3 linked regions of the Homo sapiens genome follow. The protein of the gene in region 1 purifies or fractionates together with the protein of each later gene. This does not show direct contact. Each region holds a gene or a part of one and is shown on either strand. Other genes may lie near its edges.

Region 1 (8,490 bases):
GTTGAGGTGGGGTTTCACCATGTTGCCCAGGTTGGTCTCAATCTCTCAAGCTCAAGCAATCTGCCTACCTCGGCCTCCCAAAGTGTTAGGATTACAGGTGTGAGCCACTGCACCTGGCCTCATATCATATTCTTGGTTGCTAGTAAGCCAAAATTACTGCTCTGTAGGCCTATGGATTTTTTGTTTTTGCATTTGTGATTGAGGTTTGTAACTCTCCCAAGGAGGGATCACCCACTATATTAGTATTTGCACAATTTGGCCTTCTTTGTGAAATTGACTATGCTGCCCATCAATGATAGCAATTTAAAATAGGCCAATATAGCAACTTTTTAATTATATATTTCAAATCAAATTTTTGAAATCACCCACATAAGAAATTTTACATTTTTTCCAAACAAGCAAATTTCAGGCATAAAATATGCGTCATTCTACATTCTACATTTCTTGGTTATAATTAACCTAATAGTATTAAACCTCCAAAATGTTAGGATATCACTGACAATATGCATATCTGTTTAGGGAGCTAATAATCTTAAAAGCTTCTAAAACCTCAAGAGAAAAACTCTTCAGTTTTCTCTCAAAAATACTGAGCAGCTAAATTTGTTTTACAAATTGCCATTCTTCCTTGGTAATCTACAATCTAAACTAAGCCAAACATATTCAAGCCTGTACTCCCTATTTTAAACATCTTTGGGGCTTACAAGTAGGAATTTCTCTAGATGTAGAAAAAAGGCTACCATTTAATTAAACAATTTAGTGAAAATATAATTGCCTTATTCTAAATATTAGTTTTTCAGAGCATATTAAAGAATTCTGGGACTTAAGGAACATTTCTTGTGGGAAAATCTTCAATTTTCAAAAAAAGAATGCTTGGCTAAGAATTTTTTTTTAATAACAAAACAAGTAACCACTTTCTGACATTACAGTATATTTATAGTAAGGTTTTCTTTGATTGACGTGAGTTATGCTTATCGTGATGGTTTTGGAGGGAACAAAAAATATTAATTTCTACCATATATTCCTTAAAGACTTGGGCATTTGTTTTATGTGGCAAGATTCACTGTTTCACTACTTTCTGGGAGACAGAAATATAAATTCATGTTTTATATATAAGTATGTAAGATGTATATTTAAACACACACAGACAACCTGCGTCGGCCTTCATTGTTTACACACTTCTTAATCTCATTGTCCTGTGATGACTGAGGCAACAGTTCAAAGATAGCTTTATATACTATGGGTCAAACAACTCAGCATTCTTTAAAGCATCATCTTTACATGTACAAAATAATACTAAAAATGAATAGCCCATGAACCAACCTACCATTCATTACCCAAGTCACTCACTATGGGGATAGGATAGGACTGAATTACATAAAGGATGGATAATACGACTTTGTATTAAAAGACTAGCTGGGTACACGGTTGGCATTCAAATGCTTGCTCATTAGATTAGTGATCGAGGAGAAGGGTACTCAAGATTTAAACACTTCTAAGACATTTGTCTGGGGTTAAGAAAGTGAATTTTGAAATTGAATTTTGAAACTAGTATCAAGAGCAATGTACTTCAAAACAAAAAATTAGAAACAAAAATGTAAATTAGCCTAACAGAACCAAGCTAGGCGGAGTAAACTCCAATGCATTTGTATACTAAATGGCAGCCAAGCACAAATCCCACACTTGAAAAATTATCAGCTTTTTCCTCTACAGAACACTAATTTTTTTTCCAGTAGAAGAAACCTAAGGCAGAGAACTGTGGATGCTGTACTACAGTACTCAATACTCTAAAATAAACTCAAAGAGAAAAAGGAAATAACAGGCAAACATTCTGGGAAAAAAAAAAAAAGACTCAATGGAGAAAAAGATGAAACAAAGCCTGTAAGTAGGTCACCTCATTGCTTTTGCTAATGCCAAAGTACCAATCCTTATCATTTTTATTACCAAGAGTTACTGAAGGAAAACACCAACCTTTGTGTTGGCTGCAATCCAATTGGAGGTTTCACTGTCATCATCACACTTTTTAATCCATTTCTTTAACCACTGTTTGAAAATAACAACGGTTAGGATACAACAAAAGACTTTTAAAAATAGCAAATTACTTTAGCACTTAACTATAGTCAAGCTTAAATGTAAAAGCCAATGAATAAGATTATCACTAGGCTCACATCCTCTTAAGCCAGGGAAATCCCATAGCTACAATGTCCAGTATATATAAAATCAACCAAAGCAGGATTTTCTTTGGCAGAAGCTGAGTGGGGAACCTAGAGCTTGAAGAGAAGCCCAACTGCAAGGTGTGTATTCCCCTAATTACAAAGCCTGACAAAGAGGTGCCTTAGCCATGGTTATCCTAATAACAATCAGGAGCTGACTTGGCTTATCCTAAGGAATTACCTCTGAATACATGTAATGATCATCTGAAATTAAAAGGATAAAAAAAAATCTATCAATAGATAGATAACAAAATCATCAGCTATGATTTTTAGTCACTAAGTCTTAGAAGTGTGCCATTATTTAAAAATTGAAATGTCAGACAAACTCACCTTACATTTAACAGGATCATGCCAATTTTCTCCACAGTTAAAGCTGTTAAGTGACACAAAGAGTTAATAGAATTAAGGCCTACCTACTGTAAGCAAGTAAATAAGCCAATCATTTCATGCCTTATAGTTCCACAGTATTGTCACTAGTTTCTAGTGACTGGCAAATACAAGGAGAGAACCCATGTCTGCTTTACAGTTAATTACCTAGAATTTAGTAGTAGAACTAGCACATAGTGGGTACTCAATATGTGTGAAGAATGACTATAAGCATGAAGACACGCTTTGATGACAATTTCATAATAATTGTTGCTAAGGTGCCTCAGACTATATTGAGAAGTTTCAACCCATGCTTCATCAGTGCATTTTTAATCTTTTACTTAACACCCTAAATGAAGAATAAAAGGCTGACTTTGTAGGTTACTTATATAATTTAGTACTAATACACAGTAAACAATATATGGGAAGCAAATAGGTCACATCTTTGCATTATTTAAACAAATGAACCTCCGCCCTGTAGAGGGAAATGGTACTGGGCAAGGTATAAAACAAAAAGACTAAATACTCACTAAACATGTGTTAATCAGTAATTCACTTTTGTTTTCTAAGTTCATGACATATACACTTGTAAAAGAAGTATAATTAACAAACACAAATGCTTAAGAAAAAAATAATAAAATGACAGATTAATTAGCTAATTAAGTAATTTACGAATGGCAAAAAGTCCTTTGCTAAAGACAGAAACAAACTACTATTGATTTAAATCAGGTTAAGATAAATGGTTATTTCTGAAAAGAAAGATGGGGAATGGGAAGGAGCAGGGAACCAAGGAGCTTCAAATATATGTGTCATGTTTTATCTCTTAATGAAGAAAAACAAAATACTAATTTTGATTTAACTGGATTGTAGCTATATAGGTATTCACTGCTGTATTCTCTATACTTTTATGTTTGAAATGTGTCACGCTAAAAATACATTGGAAAGTAGGTATTATCCACCTTTTCTCTAAAATAACAATACATAATTAATCTTTATCGAAACAGTATGTATTTTACACATACTTAATCTCTGTGAGCTTACCTGCTCTTTTTGGAAATATTTATTATTAATGATGTGTTAAGTGTAATTCTATAGATGTTTGGAGGAAAAAAAGAAAGGTATGGAATACCAATAAAATATTTCCCCCTCCAAACCACCCCGCAGCAAAAAAGAAAATCTGGCTGGCCATGGTGCTTCTCACCTGTAATCCCAGCACTTAGGGAGGGCCGAGGCAGGTGGATTACTTGAGGCCAGGAGTTCAAGACCAGCCTGGCCAACAAGGTGAAATGCTGTCTCTATTAAAAATAAATACATAAATAAATAAACAAATAAATAAATAAATAAAAATTAGCCAGGCGTGGTGGCACACGCCTGTAATCCCAGCTACTCAAGAGGCACAAGAATCACTTGAACCTGAGAAGCAAAGGTTACAGTGCGAGATCGTGCCACTGCACTCCAGCCTGGGTGATGGAGTGAGACCCTCTCTCAAAACAAAACAAAACAAAAAATCTATTTGCTGGGTCTAGAGCCCCTTGACTTGATTGGCTTCTTACTCCTCAAGACCCTCAAAGGAACAGAAAATCATCTTAACTTCTAGCAGGATATAAATGTTTGTGTCCCCCTAAAATGTGTATGTTAAAACTTAATAACCAATGTGACAGTATTAGGATGTGGAGCCTTTAGGAGGTGAATGGAATTGGCATCCTTTTTAAAAAAAAAAGGGGCCCAGAGAGCTGCCTTGTCCTTTCCACCATATGAGGACCCAGCAAGTAGGCACCATCTATGAACCAGAAAAGCAGGCCCTCGCCAGACAACAAATCTTTTGGCACCTTGATCTTGGACTTCTCACCCTTAAGAACTGTAAGAAATAAATTTATGTTGTTTAGAAGCCGCCCAGTTTATGGTCTTTTGTTATAAAAGCCTGAACATTAAGACAGAAAATGGTACCAAGAAGTGAGGGTGCTGTTCTAACAAAACCAAAAATGTGAAAGCCGATTTGAAACTAGGTAGTAAGTAGAGGCTGGAAGAGCTTGGAAGTGCAAGCTAGAAAAAGCCTAGATCACTGTGAATGAACTGAATTGTTAAGGGTAATTCTGGTGAGGATTCAGAAAGACAGAAGTGCAGGGAATGCCTCAATCATAGAGAAAACCTAAATAAATGGCCATGAACAGAATGTTGTTAGAAATATGGACAGTAAAGGCCATTATGATGAGGTCTCAGATGAAAATGAGGAACATGCTGTTAGAAACTAGAGGAAAGGCCATCCTTGCTATAAAGTGGCAAAGAAGTTGGCTGAATTGTTTTGTGGAAGGTAGAGAAATGAAACTGAATATCTGGTTGAGGAAATTACTAAGCAAAGTGTTGAAGACGCAGCTTAGCTTCTCTTGAATGTTTATAGAAAATGCAAGAAGAGATGAATGACCTAGAGATAAACTGTTCATCAAAAGGAAATAAGAAGTCAAAAATTTGAAAAATTTTCAGCCTATCCACTTTGGAAAAAACTAGAACACCTATAAAGGAGCCTGAACTGATTAAGACATCCCCTAATATGTGGCACTGGAAACTTCCTGGCAGTTCAAATCTAGAATTCAGAGGCTGAAGAGTATACTATAGAACTCCAAAAGCCCAAGTTACCAAGAAAGCTGGGCGAGAGGAGCCACAGGAAAACTCTTAGTTAAAAAGGAGACCATCAGCAGAATTTACCTGCACATTTCCTTTGCATAAGTAAGGTTAAAATTTGGCAGAGTAAAGAAAAACGTATAGTCCCAGATCTACAAGTTTGCTCCCATTAAGTTACAGTGGAGCATACAGGAAGATATGATTAGAGTTGTATATTTTCTCCATAAAAAAAAATTCAAAAAAGTTAGAACATCAAGGAAAGAGGAAAAATTTTTTTAAGATGTGACCTTTTCATTCAATTCTGAAAGAGATATATACTATTTTAAACCAGTATCAAACATCTCCCTGCCTAAGGTAAACACTTTTTTTCTGCTATTTTACTACCAAGAATAAACAGGAGAAATGGAAACGCTTTGTGCACTATTTCAATTTAGGAAATCACTTGCTTACCAAAATTGGCGCCCACATTTGCAGCGAACAGGTTTAGCATCAGGATATTGGACTTTAACAACATGGTGGCAATCTGGGGCAGGACACCACTTTAACAGTCGATTGCACTGAAATACAAGTTAGAAAATAAAAAATGACAGCTGGCTGGGCACAGTGGCTCACACCTATAATCCCAGAACTTAGGGAGGCCAAGGCGGGAGGACTGTTTGAGGTCAAGCACTCCAGACCAGCCCGGGCAACATAGCAAGACCTTGTCTCTACCTTAAAAAAAAGAAAAAAGAATTTAGCCAGGCATGGTGGTATGTGCCTGTAGTCCCGACTACACAGGAGGCTGAGGCAAGAGGATCACTTGAGCCCAGGAAGTAGAGGCTGCAGAGAGCTGTGATCATCTGCTGCACTCCAGCCTGGGTGTTAGAATGAGGCCCTGCCTCAAAAAAAGACAGCAAATTAAATTAGGTCATGATGCAAGATTTCCTAGTACATCAAGCTATTTATATTGCTTCTCTGGTACAAGGGGCAAATGGGGGATAATTACACAAGCTTATGAAAACTTGCTGTGGTCTTCTATAGCAACACTTCAGATGTGCCTTTTTTTTTTTTTTTTAAAGATGACTGATCCCTGAAGACCTGGTTTTATAAAATACATGAATCACCTCTTGTTCTATCTTCAAAATCCCACTGAATAACTTTAATTAAATATCATGTATGTGACCATTAAAAACCACTAATTTATTTACAGTTCTATTTCAGAACAATTTTCAAAAGACACAAGAAAATCAGATATACTCTTTATCAAGGAAGGTGTTTAGAAGCTACAGAATAGTTCAAGATAGGCTAAAGGATATACATACAACTTCTCCCATAAAAAGCTCTTGTAAGAAGGAAAAAAAAAAACAAACAAAAAACCCAGTTCCTAAACCACAGGCAAAGATTGCATTTTAGTTCCTCAAAAGGAAATATAACTTTTATAGTATTATGAAAAAAAAACACTCTGCACCAGAATTCAGAAGTCCATTGACCATTTCAAATAATACACTATTTCTAAAATAGGCTGTTTCCAGGTTTAATCTCTAACAGAAATAATTACTTTCTAGAATTAAAAGACCAAGTTACTGATGTTGTCATACAGGGGCTGAAAAACTCCTCTGTAACAAGCCAAGAGGGTAAAGAATTTTGGTTTTGCAGGCCAGAACAGTCTCTGTAGCAACTACTCAACTCTGCCACTGTAGCACAAAAGGAGTCATAGAACAAATGGGCAAAGGCATGGTCCAATAAAGGATAGCATTCTTTATTAACAAGATTTACTGGTAATGAAACCTAAAACGAGCAGAGAAATAGCAGGGTTAGAATCTCAAACATGATTAAACATGACACGATTAGTAATCTACTACAATTCTCAGCTAGGGATAAAGAAAAGTAAAGGAAGAATACAGTAAAAATAATTTTATTATCCAAGGTCAAGATCTATGGAGAGATGTACTTACTGGTTTCTCATACTCTTTTATTTTATTTTATTTTATTTTTTATTAAGAGGGAGTCTCGCTCTGTCACCCAGGCTGGAGTGCAGTGGCGCCATCTCGGCTCACTGCAACCTCTGCCTCCAGGGTTCAAGCGATTCTCCTGCCTCAGCCTCCCGAGTAGCTCGGATTACAGGCTTGTGCCACTGTGCCCAGCTAATTTTTGTATTTTTAGAAGAGACAGGGTTTCGCCATGTTGGTCTTGAACTCCTGATCTCAGGTGATCCACCCGCCTCGGCCTCCCTTAGTGCTGGGATTACAGGCATGAGCCACCACACCTGGCCTGTCATACTCTTTTGAGAATAAAGGTATTTTGGCATGCTTCATAAATATGTTAAAGATGTTTTTTACTGTCAATAAATTATAATTTTTAAAATAGTATTTCTATTAATAAACAGAATTCCTTCTTACAAGAAGGAAAACAAATCACTTACCTCTACAAAGCTATTTGTTATTAAATGCTGATACTTTAATTTAACTTTTGAATCTGTGATCAGGCGCCTGAAACCAAGAATAAAAATAGATTAGAAAGTTTCCAGTCAAGAGTATTTTCCACATTTATAAAACATAGTTTCAAAAGCTGTTTATGCTACGGCTACATGTTTATGCCCTAAGCTGTAAATACTGAAATGCACATAGGCTATCAACAAATATAACTGTACTGATCAGAACAATAATTTCAAAGTTTGTATAGTTTTATTTTCATAGACTTTTTTTCCATGGTTCTTATTTTTTAAATAGTCTACTTTTACCCAGTTTTTATTACAGCCTAATGACTTACCAACTAGTGCCAAGTATAAGCGCATTTCAGGGTCTTTTGACTCTGATATCATATCATGCCTTAAGACAGCAATTCTCAGCCACCTTCCTTCAGACACCCCACCCAAATCAGTATGCGAAATGAGACAGATATTGTTGCCAGAAATGTTAAGAAATGGATCCAGGTTTTGTGATACCTAAAGCTGATACAATTTTAAGAGCCTTCTTCTTCTGAGAGCTCTTAGAAATTAACCAGAAATGCTCACTGACTGCATCCTGGCCTCTTCTGAACACTATAACTCACAAGAATTTCCAGAATTCACAGGATCCCACGTAGTGAGGAATCCTGAAGTTTAAGTTTCATTAGTTCTATGGTAAATACTCCTCTGAGTGTATTCCCACTGAGAAAGACATGAAGAACATGCATGTAGTTCAACCCCATTAAAATCTTTTAAATGAACCAATCTGGCCTCATTTGACTCTTGAGCTTCATAGGCCTCTCTCCTTCCACAAGATCCCACCCTGTCCTGTGGCACTTTCAGTGCACTCCTATCACATTCGTATTCTTG
Region 2 (6,243 bases), on another chromosome or scaffold:
GGCAACAGAGCCAGACTAGGTCTCCAAAAAAAAAGAAAAGAAAAAAAAAAAGAGCCTATTAGACAAAGCTTGTTTGTTTGTTTTTGGGTAATAAGAGTTGAGCTGATGAAAGTCATCTTTTGGGGCTGGGTATGGTGGCTCACACCAGTAATCCCAGCACTTTGGGAGGCTGAGGCAGGAGGATTGCTTGAGGCCAGGAATTTGAGCCCAGCCTGGGCAACAAGGTAAGACCCTGTCTCTACAAAAAATAAATTAGCCGGGTATGGTGGCATGTGCCTGTAGTCCTAGCTATTCAAGAGATAGAGGCAGGAGGATTGCTTGAGGCCAGGAGGTGCTGCAGTGAACTGTGATTGTGCCATTGCACTCTAGCCTGTGTGACAGAGTGAGACCCTGTCTCAAAAAAAGAAAATCAGCTTTTGGAGGCAGTGTAGCAAACCACATTCTACACACACAATCGTCCTCTAAGAGAGGACGATTCTATAAGCTGTATTATCAGTTATCTTTAGCTTTATTCTTTCTTTTTGAGACGGAGTTTTGCTCTTGTTGCCCTGGCTGGAGTGCAATGGCACGATCTCGGCTCACTGCCACCCAGTTCAAGCGATTCTCCTGTCTCAGCCTCCTGAGTAGCTGGGGCTACAGGCATGCGCCACCACACCCGGCTAATTCTGTATTTTTTTTTTAGTAGAGACAGGGTTTCTCCACTTTGGTCAGGCCAGTCTCAAAACTCCTGACTTCAGGTGATCCACCCGCCTCAGCCTCCCAAAGTGCTGGGATTACAGGCGTGAGCCACCATGCGTGGCCAGCTTTATTCTTATAATAAGTACCACCTAGGAAAACCATTATTCCCTATTTTAACAATATGATAATAATGCAAATGTTTAGTATAGATAGTATTTGCTTTTAAAGGGAGATAACTTTGTTTCTTGTTTTGTCAATTTGGCATCTTACTGTTTCTTTTTTTTAATGAAAAATGTTTAAAAATTATGTGGTCTTGCTATGTTGCCCAGGCTGCTCTTGAGCTCCTGGGCACAAGCAGTCCTCCTGCCTCAGCCTCCCACAGTGCTGGGATTATCGGCATAAGCCACTGCACCAAGCCCCATGTTACTGTTTAACACATTAACCTGAGAGGCACAGAATCTCATAAAATGTTTATTGATTTGGTCTTGGCTTATTGTGTAAACCATTTAATAGCCAAAAGTCAGAATTTAAACATCTAAAATACACTGAAAATGTGTTCTTTTCCAATAACATGGATGTTCACAACAGTTGGTGTTACGTTAGAGCTAATAATTATACTTTAGCACGTTAACCTCAGAATTCTAAGGCTGAGAGTCAAACACTGCTAATTCATAGAAGGCAATAGCTTGTAATAATGAATCATAAAGCTCTTCTACTCTTTGTAGTTCAGTAGATAAAAACATCTGTCTGTAGTGAACTATTTTATCTGATGGGAAGAACACCCGAGGATCCGCCTTCAGTATAGAATCGAAGAGAAACTGCTTCACTAGCTCTTTTCCACTAGTCCGGGAGTCACCAATCATCAGTTCAAAATGCTTCCCCACTGCATTTCGATTCATGCTCAGCACCTGATGCTGCCCATCCTGGGCAAAAGTTTTATTTAATAAGGCATACAGCATGGCTTCCATGATATGAAAATGTAACAGTATTGGAAACAGAGATGAGTTCTGAATGGAAAGTCCTGTTTTTTCCAGAACATAGAAATCTGCTTTAGGCATCTTTGAAATGATCGAGGAAATCTTTTTAAAAAAAGACAAAATAAAGGAACAGAAATAATTCATTACATTTTATGTTTGGTCCCCTCTCTGTCCCACTTCTATTTAAAAATATTATAATTAGTTAATTTATACTATATTGACAATTTTGAAATAACTGAAAAAGCCATTTTATGAGCAGTCTGGTTCTGGTCATGGTTATGTCACAACAACAGCTAAGCTAAGCTGTTTAGTCCTCCTAAGTACCAGTTTCTTGATCTGTACAGTGGACTTCATAATTTCTAAAATATGTATTGGCTTTAAGGTTAGACAACTTAAAACTGTTTTACTAAACCTTCAAACATTTTCTGGGATAGAGCATACGGTTAGAATAACTAGCAAGAATCAATCACCTCTGCAACTGACTAATCACATCAGATGCTTGACTGAACCACAGATTTCATATGTATAATCAAGGTGGTAATTCCTGACCATTAAGGTGATAATTCCTGACCATTTCGCAAGGTTTTGAAAACTCAAATGAGACAATGTGATGGCATTTTGAAAAATAAGCTTTATAAATAAAAGAGTGATAATGTTCTATAACATTTAGAATGAAATACCATTGATTTTCTCAGTATCTGCCTTCGATGCATAAGGCATTTCTTGAACTAACTAAAGGTTGAATTTTTAAAAATCAAAGGTGATGGAAAACATAATAGGAATAAGTGAGTAACAAGTACCAGAAGAAAACCCATCTTTACTATTTTATTACATTCCTTTTGGGACCAGAAGATTAAACTACACAAGGAGCTCTAGCAGGTAGGAATCTGGAGGTGCAACTGCCTTACCTCTTCTAAATAGACTGATGATGAGTATATTCCTCTCATTAAACTCCAACGGTCACTTTGCTGCCAGTCCAGCACTGTCAACTTACGATCAAGGTGAGCCCAGGCAATTCTTCGAGTACCAAAAACGATAGATATGATACTATTAACTGCCTAAAAGAAAAGACTGATTTAATTAGAAGTATAAACATTTTAGTTTTTTCTTTTTTTGAGACGGAGTCTCGCTCTGTCTCCCAGGCTGGAGTGCAGTGGCGCGATCTCAACTCACTACAAGCTCCACCTTCTGGGTTCATGCCATTCTCCTGCCTCAGCCTCCCGACTAGCTGGGACTACAGGCGCCCGCCACCACGCCCGGCTAATTTTTTTATTTTTTTTTTTAGTAGAGATGGGGTTTTACTGTGTTAGCCAGGATAGTCTCGATCTCCTGATCTCATGATCCACCTGCCTTGACCTCCCAAAGAGCTAGGATTACAGGCATGAGCCACCGTGCCTGGCCAGAAGTGTAAATATTTTAGATGCAAACATAATCTACAAATTCAGAATGCCTAACTAGTTTATGTAATATAAACTTATTTATAGTTTATGAACTGAGAATTATTAAAGAAATGCAGGAGTAATTATTATTTTGTTTGAGATGGAGTCTCGTTCTGTCACCCAGGCTAGAGTGCAGTGGCGCAATCAGCTCACTGCAACATCCACCTCCCAGATTCAAGCAATCCTTCTGCCTCAGCTTCCTGAGTAGCTGGGATTACAGGTACCTGCCACCACACCCAGCTAATTTTTGTATGTTTAGTAGAGACAGGGTTTCACCATGTTGGCCAGGCTGGTCTTGAGCTCCTGACCTCAAGTGATCCACCTGCCTCTGCCTCCCAAAGTGCTGGGATTACAGGTGTGAGCCACCAAGGAGTAATTATTATTAAAAGGTAACCAGCAGCAGTCAGTTTATAGATAAAGGACCTATACTCATTCTCAGCACCTTGCCCAAAGTAGGCATTCAAACTCAAGTGTAGCCAAGGTCTGCACTAGATACTAGGAAACAACAAACGTAACTGTACATTATAAGAAATGCCACCATAAAACTATTGTAGAGAGAAGTGGTCAGGGAAGGTTTACTGGAGGACTAGGAGAATGAGACAGTAAATGGGAAGTTATTTCACCCAGATGTCTGGAAAGATAGGCTGTTTGACATCTCACACTCTGGCAGTAGAATAAAGACTGAATAGGAAAAGGGCAGAGGACAAGGCAGATGTCTATAAAGGTAAGTAACTTGCTTTATCCTGAGTGCTACAGGGGCCACTAAAAAAACAGAATTTTAAGGAATAACATAAGATTTACATTTCAGAAAAATCACTGATGGTGTAAAAGATGGGCTGGAGGGAACTAAAGGTAGGGATCTGTGTTAGGTACCTGTTACAACATGAGAAAGTGTTAAGAATTGAAGACAATGACAGAAGGAAAAGAAACAGATAGTGGGAGCAGAATTAATACATAGGTTTAACGAGGAGTCTAGAATAATTCCAGTTTTATATCAGTGACTGAATGGCATCATTAATGATGACGAAGATAGGAGTCACATGACCTAGGGAAGGTGGGAAGAAATTTTTTTGTTTTGTTTTGGTTTGTTTTTAATGCATTAAGTTTGGGTTGCCTATAGGGCTTCTAAGAGGAGATATATAATAAGTAATTGAATATTTAGATTTTGCTTCCTATCAAGTCTGGGCTGACGATGAAGTACAATGCTATCACCTTTCCCCAACATGGCTCACTTAGTTATATTAACAAACTAATATGTTCTATAGATACAGAGGCAAATAAACAGGAACAATTAGTTGTATACCCATCTCCCTTTCATTGCTAAGGACTGGATAAATATCTTAAAGACAAAATAGTATAGATGCCCAAAATACAGACTTCCTTTTGGTTTTCTTTAGCTAAGTGACTCTCAAGCTTTACTGTGCACAAGCATTACTGAACCAGACTACACACAATACTTCGTCGGCAATCGATTTTTTCTTAAAGGATTTTACTGCATGACTTATATCTCCATAAAAACTGACTTAAAATCCAGCCCCCTAAATAAGATGCAACTCCACTCTAATCTGGGTATAAATAGTTTTGGCCATGAATCTGGATGAGAATCCTCCCTGAAGAATTTGGTTAAAATATGTTCCAGATCAATTGCAGCAGTTCTACTTGGAGTCCATGAGTGGACTTAACAGAATCTGCCAGTCCTCTGAAACTGTGTAGTATTCTGTGTATATGTGCTATATCTTTTTCTATGGGAAGAGGGTCCACAGCTTTCATCAGGTTTTCAAAAGTACCCATATTCCTCAAAAAACGGACCCACTGGTCCAGAAAAAAAATGGTGCTTATGATTTTTATGAGATAATGATTATCAAGCAATGTTACACAGGACATGAGTTCCTCTAAAGTTTAATACTTGAGTGCTGTGGCCGGGCGCAGTGTCTCACACCTGTAATCTCAGCACTTCGGGAGCCCGAGGCAGGTGGATCACGAGGTCAACAGATCAAGACCATCCTGGCGCCAACATGGTAAAACCTCATCTCTACTAAAAATACAAAAATTAGCTGGGCGTGGTGGCATGTGCCTGTAGTTTCAGCTACTCAGGAGGCTGAGGCAGGAGAATCGCTTGAACCTGGGAGGTGGAGGTTGTTGTGAGATCATGCCACTGTACTCCAGCCTGGCGACAGCACAAGACTCTGTCTCAAAAAAAAAAAAAAAAAAAAAATTGGCTGTGTCAAATATTTCTAGTATTTATTTTTTTAAGACAATAGAAAAAGAATTGCTTTTAGAATGGTGTTTTTTTTTTTTTTTTGAGACAGAGTCTTGCTCTGTAGCCAGGCTGGAGTGCACTGGCGTGATGTCAGCTCACTGCAACCTCTGCCTCCCAGGTTCAAGAGATTCTCCTGCCTCAGCCTCCCGAGTAGCTGGGACTACAGGCCCACGCCACCATGCCCAGCTAAATTTTGTATTTTTAGTAGAGATGGGCTTTCACCACATTGGCCAGGATTGTCTGGATCTCTTGACCTTGTGATCCGCCCGCTTTGGCCTCCCAAAGTGCTGGGATTACAGGTGTGAGCCAGCCGCTTTTTTTTTTTTTTTTTAATCTTACCTATAGACTTGCATGATTCAAGATAAAATGCTTTTTAAAGGAGAAAAGGTACAGAAAATAATTTTAAATTCTGCCGGAAAGACTGGTATAATGTTCTAAAGTCACTCACTGGCCATAACCTATCTTTGCTCCTTAATTTCTCATTAATCCTAACATCACCCTTAGACACAGCCTGGTATCTCCAACGACACTCCTCTTAAATAAGCCTTGCCTAGACCTGCTTCTCAGCATCAACTGTTCTTTCTACCTACAATGCCCTCCTCTCCCATCCAAAGGATCTCTCTTTTAAGACCTAAATTGAGTTCTTCCAGTAAACTTTCCACAACAGTCACAGCCCATTGTTTTCTCTCCTCTCAACTGCCAATTTACTATCTGTACATCTCATTATTTGGTAGTGATCATATACTTGCCAACTAAACCTGAAGAACCCTGTCTTAGCCACTTCCCAACCCAATGCCCAGAAGAGTGCTTTCTAGAGTAGGTTCTCAAATATTAGGCAGTATAGCAGACATGAAGAATATACCTTAAGTCTTTCTCTTTCTATGTCTGG
Region 3 (8,490 bases), on another chromosome or scaffold:
CTCAGCCTCCCAAGGTGCTGGGATTACAGGCATGAGTCGCTGCACCCGGCAGTCCCATCTCTTATTGGAAATTATCAGTCTATTGTAGTATAGGCAAATAAATGTACCATTTGGATACAAAAGACTCTTCCTACTTATTTTCCCCACCCCTCCAACCATTAATATCCAGCTGGACATTAATCTTAGACTAAAACTCAGTTGCTGTACAAAGATCTACATTTCTTCAACCTCCTTCAGTGCCTATAAAGTCATTCTACTTATAAACTCTGTTGTTGAGTATGCCTTGGAGATGTTTTTGCTGTATTTTGGTTTAACCCTATGTTTCATAGAAGTTCCATCACTGGCCATAGATTTCTCCCCATGATCTGATATAATCTGATTTGCTTGATGCTTTATCATCTTTATTCTTCACTCCCCACCCCTTTCTCCCTCTCCTTCTCTCCCTCCTTTGACCTCCAAGGCAACTTGATCACTTGTTTTTTGGTGGTAACCAAATAGTTAACTTGGTTATGCTACTTGGTATTTTTTGGTATAGTATGTAGCAAAAACACCTGAGAGATCTGCCTCTGTACCCCCTCCCCAAATGAAATAAAATTTAAAAATTCAAGACACTATGAGAATAAAAATAGCTTTAGTTATAAACCTGCATATAAGTTTTAAGCAATAGTCAATACTAGGCCTTATTTGAAAATCTTCAAATAAGCTGTAAAAGTGAAATTTTGTTCATTTCCTAGCCTGCTATTTGAGGCTTATTTTCTCTCTCATTCTAAACATTATTATTTTATTTTATCTTCACAAAATAATACAATAACAGATTTATCTATCAGAAACTATATTAACAGTTTTAGTAAAATACTTAAAATTTGCAAAATGCAAATCCTCTGAGCCATGAAGCCAATCTTAGATTTGTAAGCGATATTTTTTTTACTCTGAATATATTATTTGCCTCATATTCCCAGTGCCTAGGACAGTCTTTAATACATTGTATACACCAAGTTTTCTGTAAGCCTAATCTCTATATTTTGTCTTTAACTTCGTTAAGAAATTAAGATTTTATTTGGCAAAAAGGACATTTATTTTTCTTGATATTCATTTATAAGTGTTCTAGTAAGCCTTAAATTTTTTCTTTATTATTCCGTTTTCCCCACATTTTAATTAAGTATTACTCAGAGCTGCCTTCTTTAAGCAGCTTATGGTGATACTATTTTGACGTTGGTCAGAAATCAGAATTTAAAACTGGCTGCTATCCAGCTTCTATCAGAAGTGCATTTGAGAGAAGTGTTATTTAATAAAAGATTGCTGAAAGGACATTTAGTTCATCTCCTCTCTGTATTCTGAGCTGTTTCTGTTTCAAGTTAGATCTGTGAATGCTACTTTCTTAGGAAATGCAGTGTATGTTCTCAATTTCATCAAGGATAAATAATGGAAAATAAATCATATAAAAACTAATTGCTGTGTTTGAAAAACTGTCAGGGTGTCAGGGGCACTGCCATGATGTCATTGAATTTCCCCCAGAAAAGCTTACCATGAGAAATGTCCTAGAATCTGTGTCAGAAAAAAAAAAAAAAAAAGACTTCTCTGAAGGGTTAGTAGACTTGTTTCTGATTATGAGGAACTTTTTCTTTCCTCTTGACTGTTGGAAAACTCAGTGCAAAATTTTTATACTACATGGCAGCGACTCTGTAAGTCCTTTCTAAATATGTCTTCAAAAGAAATTCTGCGCTGGAAAAAGATTGGCTTTAAATAGAAAATAGAGATAAAGCATTTGGCAAGCACCTTTTTAACATGTATTGCCAAGCTAGGCTAGTGAGCCTCTTTTTATTTTATGTATTTTTCCTTTGATTAGAAAACGTTGTGTGACGTGATCCTCATGGTCCAGGAAAGAAAGATACCTGCTCATCGTGTTGTTCTTGCTGCAGCCAGTCATTTTTTTAACTTAATGTTCACAAGTAAGTATCTTAAGGTAAAACATGCCATTATTTCTTCTATGAGAATGAAGTAAAATCTAAAAGAGAATATGTCATTTTTCTAATTTTTAAAGCAGTTAAGAACTTAAGGCCACAGAACAGTGAAGAGATTGAAAAAGTAGTCAGCTGATAACCAAAGGAAAAAATGTCCTTTCATTAGACCTAAAGGCCTGATGCCTTTATTGATGGAGGTACAGCTTCTACTTAAAAGCCCAGGGTTGAGGTGGAGGTTGCAGTGAGCCGAGATTGCACCACTGCACTCCATCCTGGGCGTCAGAGCGAGACTCTGTCTCAAAAAAAAAAAAAAAAAAAAAAAAAAAAAAAAGCCCAGGGTTTTCTTTTTAACCTTAGGTGGAAAGACAAAGAAGCAGATAAATTTCATAATATTTTAGCCGGCAAGTTAAACTTTAAAAAAAAAATAGCTGTAGCATATTGTGCCAGAAAGAACCCTGGATTTGGTGTTCAGAACTGGGTCCAAGTCCTACTTCCTCTACTTAGTACTATTTTATGAGCTTGGGAAAAAAACAAAATCTAGTTTTATGTTTCTGTTAATATGGTCTTAAAAAGAAGTACACTAATTCACTCTTTTCTTAGCTTAATTTAAGGCACATCTTGGGTGGAGAATTAATTTGCATTGACTATAGAAATGTTGGGCTTGCTGGGGCATTTTCTTCCAGAGAGAACTGTCCCGTTATTTTTCTGCATATTTAACATGGCCTGGAATGCCGTGGTTCCTCAGTCAAACTTGTGGTAGTACAGATGCCATTTATGTTTCTTCTCTTCATTGTAGCTAACATGCTTGAATCAAAGTCCTTTGAAGTAGAACTCAAAGATGCTGAACCTGATATTATTGAACAACTGGTGGAATTTGCTTATACTGCTAGGTGAGTTAAGTATTATTTTTATTTTAGAGAAGTAATGTTGGTATCTACCATGGCAAAGCATTGTCGTAACAAATAGTTGCACTACAAATTCTTCAAAATGAAAAACCGCAAGGATGGAAGAGTTTCAGTATCCTATGCCATACTAATTCAAGGACTGAAAGTTTAATTTTGTGTTTAATTTCAGGGGCTATTAGGATACATTCCACAGTAACATTTAAATAATAAAAAATCATGGGTAACTAATATTCCCTCTAACTTATTTGCAGAATTTCCGTGAATAGCAACAATGTTCAGTCTTTGCTGGATGCAGCAAACCAATATCAGATTGAACCTGTGAAGAAAATGTGTGTTGATTTTTTGAAAGAACAAGTTGATGCTTCAAATTGTCTTGGTAAGAAATATCAGATTCCTGTTGTGTGTTTATTTTGTTTTATCCTTTATTTCTAATTTAATTTTTTAAAAAGGCTGATTTTAAGTATCCGCATTTAACCTTAAAGACATTGTCCACTAGAACGTTTTCTAGTAATAAAATTTAAGAGGGGCTTAGAGAGATGCATATTAACCTGGGCAGCAGCAAGCTTATTAAATATTATATCAACATTTTCTAAAACACAAAATGGCATTTTTAATGGTTTTTCACGGATCTAGGACAATGAATAAGGATTGCATGTGGTGATAGTAACATGATTATGAATGTTTCCTTTTATTTAAGCACTTATGATATGCTAAGGTCTATCACAGATGAGGCAACTTATAGTTAGGTAACTTGCCAGAGGTCACATAGCTAGTGTATGAACGAGCTGGGATTGGAACTCAAGTAATCTAATTCTTAGCTACTACACCTTGCTGCCTCCCCACATTGTCAAAATGCTGTTTTATACTAGAAAACATAACCTTAGTCTATAAATTAAGATACTAACTGAGGGACTGCTATAGCCATTTTGAAGCTATTAATAAAGTATTTTCTATTTTGTGATAGGAGAAGCAGAAAAAGTTGATCAGAGCCTTCCAGAGTGTGGTATGCTTTTCACTGTGTGATGATCCTTAGTGGCACATGAATGAACGTCCAGATGTTTGTGCAGTAGCCCACCCTTATCTGCAGGATACGTTCCAAGACCCCCAGTGAATGCCTGAAACTGCAGATAGTACTGAATCCTATATATACTGTGTTTTTTATGATACATACATGCCTATGATGAAGTTTAATTTCTAAATTAGACAGTAAAAGATTAACAACAATAATAATAAAATAGAACAACTTTAACAATATGCTAGCATCACTACTCTTATATTTTGGGGCCATTATTAAGTAAAATAAGGGTTACTTGAACAGAGCACTGCAATACTAGGGTAGTCCACTTCATAACCAGGATGGTTTCTTAAGTGACAGGCAGGTAGGTTATACAGCATGGATATGCTGGTCAAAGGGATGATTTCTGTCCCAGGCAGGATGGAGCAGGATGACGTGAGATTTCATCACACAACTCAGAACAGCACACAATTTCAAACATATGAATTGTTTGTTTCTGGAATTTTCCATTTAATGTTTTTGAACCACAGAAAGCAAAACCATGGATAAGGGGGACTACTCTAATTCCATTTTCCTACGCTTGTTGTGATTCAGAGGCTTTAAAGAAAGGGAAGAGCGCTGGTATAGGAGTGCTAGGAAAGCAGGGAGGAAAGAAAAGTAGAATGAAGGAAAGTATAAAGAGGGGTCAAAGAATCCAGTCAGTGCTAAGATATTTGACCCAGGAGAAAAGAAGAGGGGTGCTAAATGACAAGAACGCAAAGACTGATGCAAAGGGCTCCTGAAGATGCTTCAGAATTTTGGCAAGTCTCCTCTGTCCCTACTTTTTGTAGGCTTTCCTCCTTCCGGACACTTTAGTACTCCTTCCTGCATACCCCCTCACTGTGAGCACAGAGAGAGAGATCTTGGAAGGCAGGTGGAAAGCAGCAGAATAAATTTCAGGAGGAAGTAAAAGTCAGGTGAAGGGAATAAAAATGAGACTTAGCCTAATATCCAGAAAAGGGATTGGACTAGATGGAGCAGGAAGAGAAATAGCTATGCAGGTGAATATACTGAAGGAATTTTTAAAAGGTAGCCATGGGTCTACATATTGAAAAGATCCCTATATTAGAAAATAAAAGGCCAATCTCTAATCCTACCTGTACAGCAGAGACACTCTGGCATGAGTCCTTCCATCTCTTTGGGCCGTAATTGGGGCTTCACTCATCAATAAGATTTATATTCCTAAGACTTAAGGTTACTTCCATTATATAAATAATTATCTTCAGACAATACTATAAACGGGGAATTACCTTAATTAAGTTTTTGGAAATGATGGCTTATGTATGTTTCTATAACTCCCTAGCACTCTAAATTTCCTCCTGGGGTGATTCAACTACAAAGAAGAATGGCTGAAATATAGGTAGGTAGTAGATGTGGTGGTGCAAAGCATAGTGTGGAACCTGGAGTGAGTCTGTGCTAAGCACATCTTAGGCTTTGGGCTTCTGAGGAGACCATTTAGTAGTTTTGCCTCTGGATACCTTCTATCCTTACTGTTCACAAAGCTGGGAGGAAGGACAGCCCCGCCACCTAGAAAGTAGCCTGATTCCTGGCTAAGCTTCTGGCAAAGACAGTGGCCCAGCCAGGTGAGCCAAGTGCCATAGCCCAATAACTAGGGAAACTGCTTCTGCTTGCTTTCTGTTTAGCCTTGAGCATGGCTCTCAATGTCAGCTGATTGGATAATTCCTAGCTTAGTTTTCACCACCTGTCAATTCTCTGCTGCCCAGAAAGAGTCCATCAATCGAGCTTCCACAAATGCTAAAGGAACCGGTGGCAGCTGATGGAATCGGGCAAAGATCATGTAAAAAATTAAACCCAGTACCAGCCTGGCCAACATGGTGAAACCCCTCTCTACCAAAAAAATACAAAAATTAGCCGAGTGCAGGCGTGGTGGCACACACCTGTAGTCCCAGCTACTCCGGAGGCCGAGGCGGGAAAATCGTTTGAACCGGGAGGCGGAGGTTGCAGTGAGCCGAGATCTTGCCACTGCACTCCAGCTGCATGAGACAGTGAGACCCTGTCTTGGAAAAAACAAAAAAAAACAGTAGTTTGAGGAACAGAAAACCAAGCTAAACAGCCAAAATGAATGGCTCCTGTAAGGCAAATTTAATGTGAGAAATAGAAGGGAACAAATTAACCGGGCATGGTTGTGCGCGCCTGCAGTCCAAGCTACTCCAGAGGCTGAAGCGGGAAAATCGCTTGAACCGGGAGGCGGAGGTTGCAGTGAGTGAGCCGAGATTGCGCCACTGCACTCTAGGCTGGACTACAGAGTGAGACTCTGTCTCAAGAAAAAAAAAAAAAGCAAACTTAAAAATACGATGTGTAAAAATATGGTTTTACAGTTTTTTGACATTCAATTGAATTGAAAAATAGAATCGATACTCTTAAAACTCAAACCGAAGAAGATCAAACAGGAAGTTGCCTCATGATACGAAACAAAAATGCAAAGGAAGCCACTAGTGAGAAGATAAAAGAAAGGGAAGGAAGATACAGGAACTGCAGTGTGAGGTAGGAGTTCCAGAAGGAACAGATGGAGAAAGCAATAATCAAATAAGACTACGACTTCTTTGGGTTTAAAAAAAAAAAAAAAAAAAAAAAAAAAAAGAACTTTAACTTTCGGACTAAGTTATACTGAGTATTAAACCTGATCAATGAACTAAGATATTCCTCCCTCAGATATATTCTAGTGATATTTTTCACCTTCAAAGATCAAAAGAGAGCTTACATTTGGGGTGATAAAAATATTCTGGAACTAGATAGTGGTGACTGTGGTACAACATTGCAAATGTAGTAAATGTCACGGTAAGTTTTATGTGTATTTTACCACATTAAAAAAAAAAGTGACCCTACAGCTAGCAGGTCCCAAAAGAAACTCCCACACCCACTAGCAGTCACTCCCCATTCTTCCTCTGGCAGGCCTGGCAACCATGAATCTGCTTTCTGCCCCTATAAATTTGCCTATTCTGAGTGTTTCATATAAATTGAATCATACCAAAGGTGGCCCTTTGTGTCTGGCCTCTTTGAGCACAGTGTTTTTAGGGTTCATCCATATTGTAGCATTTATCAGTACTTCATTTCTTCTTATGGCTGAATAATATTCCATTGCATGGATATACCAAAATGTGTTTATCCATTTACTGATGGGTGAATGTTTGAATTGTTTCCAAGCCAGCACATTTTATAGAGGAAAAGGAAAGCACTGGTTAACTTGAACAAAAAAAAATAAAAGTGCTTTCTACCATCTGGGACCTTGGCTGTGGATCAGGTGAGTGCACAGGTCAGACGAAAGCCCTACAGTTGGCACAGCCTGGGCCTCTGTCCATGGTTGCAGGGGCATCTCCGCAGCTACTGCATGCAGTGATCATGGGGGCCCCAGACCTGGGCTTAGGCAAGGGCACTGTGTTGTTGTACATCACCAAACACTTCAAGCTGAGGCACCTCTCCAGCAGGGACTGCTCCAGGACAACATGCTACAGGGCACATAAATTGGTATGTTAGCCAAGGCTTTTCTTGACCAAGGGAAACTCATCCCAAATGATGTTACGACTCGGCTGGCCCTTCATGAACTGAAAAATCTCACCTAATATAGCTGGTTTTCCAAGGACACTGCCATAGGCAGAAGCCCTAGATGAGCTTATCAGATAGACACAATGATTAACTTGTATGTGCCCTTGGAGGTCATTTAAACAACACTTCACTGCTTGCTGTTCATCTAGCTAGTGGCCGAGTCGACTACATTGAATTCAACCGTCCCCAAACTGTGGGTATTGCTGATCTGACTGGGAAGCCTCTCATTCGGCCTGAGAATAATAGACCAGAGACACAGTTATCAAGAGACTGAAGACTTATGGAGCCAGTCCCAGAACTTTACCAGAAAAAAACAGGGATGTTGGAAACACTCTCCAGAGCAGAAACCAACAAGATTTAACGTCATGTTTATGCTTTCCTACAAACTAAAGTTCCACAAAATCAGAAAGCCCCAGTTACTCCATGAGGAGAAATGATTATAACTAGTAAGATGAGCAGAACCTCCTTGTCCTTGGATTTAGAGGCTCCTTTTCCTAAGAATGGAGCATGTATAAATAAGAATGTAGGCATGTATAAGAATGTATGCATGTATAAGTTCTTTGAAAATTATATTATTTCTACAGATTTTATTCTGGATACTAATGATGTGCCAGATGAATCAGGTACTGATTCATCTTTTGAAATCATCTAATGTGTTTTATCCAGTTATCTTCTAGCAGTGTGCAATTCAAAAACATCATTGGTGTCTAAACTTTTAAAACATCCGTTAGAGCAAAATTAAAAGAGCAATTAGTAGTCTTTTTTCTTCAGTAAGAATAAGTGGTTGATAAAATTTTCATTTTTTTCTGGAAAAGTTTTTAAAAGTTACATGTCATTTGGGGAAAATATCTCATAAGTTTTTGCATAGAGATATTTCTAGCCCTGTGGAACATGGTTTTGTGAGACATCATATCTATAAAATTCCAGAAAAACAGCAACTGGATTTACAGATCTGTTGCAAGATGCAAATTCACTGCTGCCTTTACACTAAGAAATTTATAAGCTA

Evidence for each region. The genes of interacting proteins can lie anywhere in the genome.
Region 2: the proteins of ARIH1 (region 1) and TEFM purify together in Homo sapiens (affinity purification with mass spectrometry; 3 studies listed by BioGRID and IntAct, with this or other methods). This does not show direct contact.
Region 3: the proteins of ARIH1 (region 1) and KLHL7 purify together in Homo sapiens (affinity purification with mass spectrometry; 3 studies listed by BioGRID and IntAct, with this or other methods). This does not show direct contact.

The regions. Positions count from the first base shown.
Region 1 is NC_000015.10:72,560,656-72,569,145, reverse strand, and holds part of ARIH1 (E3 ubiquitin-protein ligase ARIH1), read right to left. Parts: intron 7,664-8,490; coding exon 7,597-7,663; intron 5,753-7,596; coding exon 5,646-5,752; intron 2,584-5,645; coding exon 2,541-2,583; intron 2,041-2,540; coding exon 1,969-2,040; intron 1-1,968. UniProt on the Homo sapiens protein: E3 ubiquitin-protein ligase, which catalyzes ubiquitination of target proteins together with ubiquitin-conjugating enzyme E2 UBE2L3.
Region 2 is NC_000017.11:30,897,850-30,904,092, forward strand, and holds the end of TEFM (transcription elongation factor, mitochondrial), read right to left. Parts: coding exon 6,217-6,243; intron 2,714-6,216; coding exon 2,564-2,713; intron 1,758-2,563; coding exon 1,320-1,757; 3' UTR 1,137-1,319; downstream 1-1,136. UniProt on the Homo sapiens protein: Transcription elongation factor which increases mitochondrial RNA polymerase processivity. Regulates transcription of the mitochondrial genome, including genes important for the oxidative phosphorylation machinery.
Region 3 is NC_000007.14:23,121,931-23,130,420, forward strand, and holds part of KLHL7 (kelch-like protein 7), read left to right. Parts: intron 1-1,846; coding exon 1,847-1,949; intron 1,950-2,757; coding exon 2,758-2,851; intron 2,852-3,117; coding exon 3,118-3,242; intron 3,243-3,830; coding exon of another isoform or gene 3,831-3,889; exon of another isoform or gene 3,890-4,120; intron 4,121-8,490. UniProt on the Homo sapiens protein: Substrate-specific adapter of a BCR (BTB-CUL3-RBX1) E3 ubiquitin ligase complex. The BCR(KLHL7) complex acts by mediating ubiquitination and subsequent degradation of substrate proteins. Probably mediates 'Lys-48'-linked ubiquitination.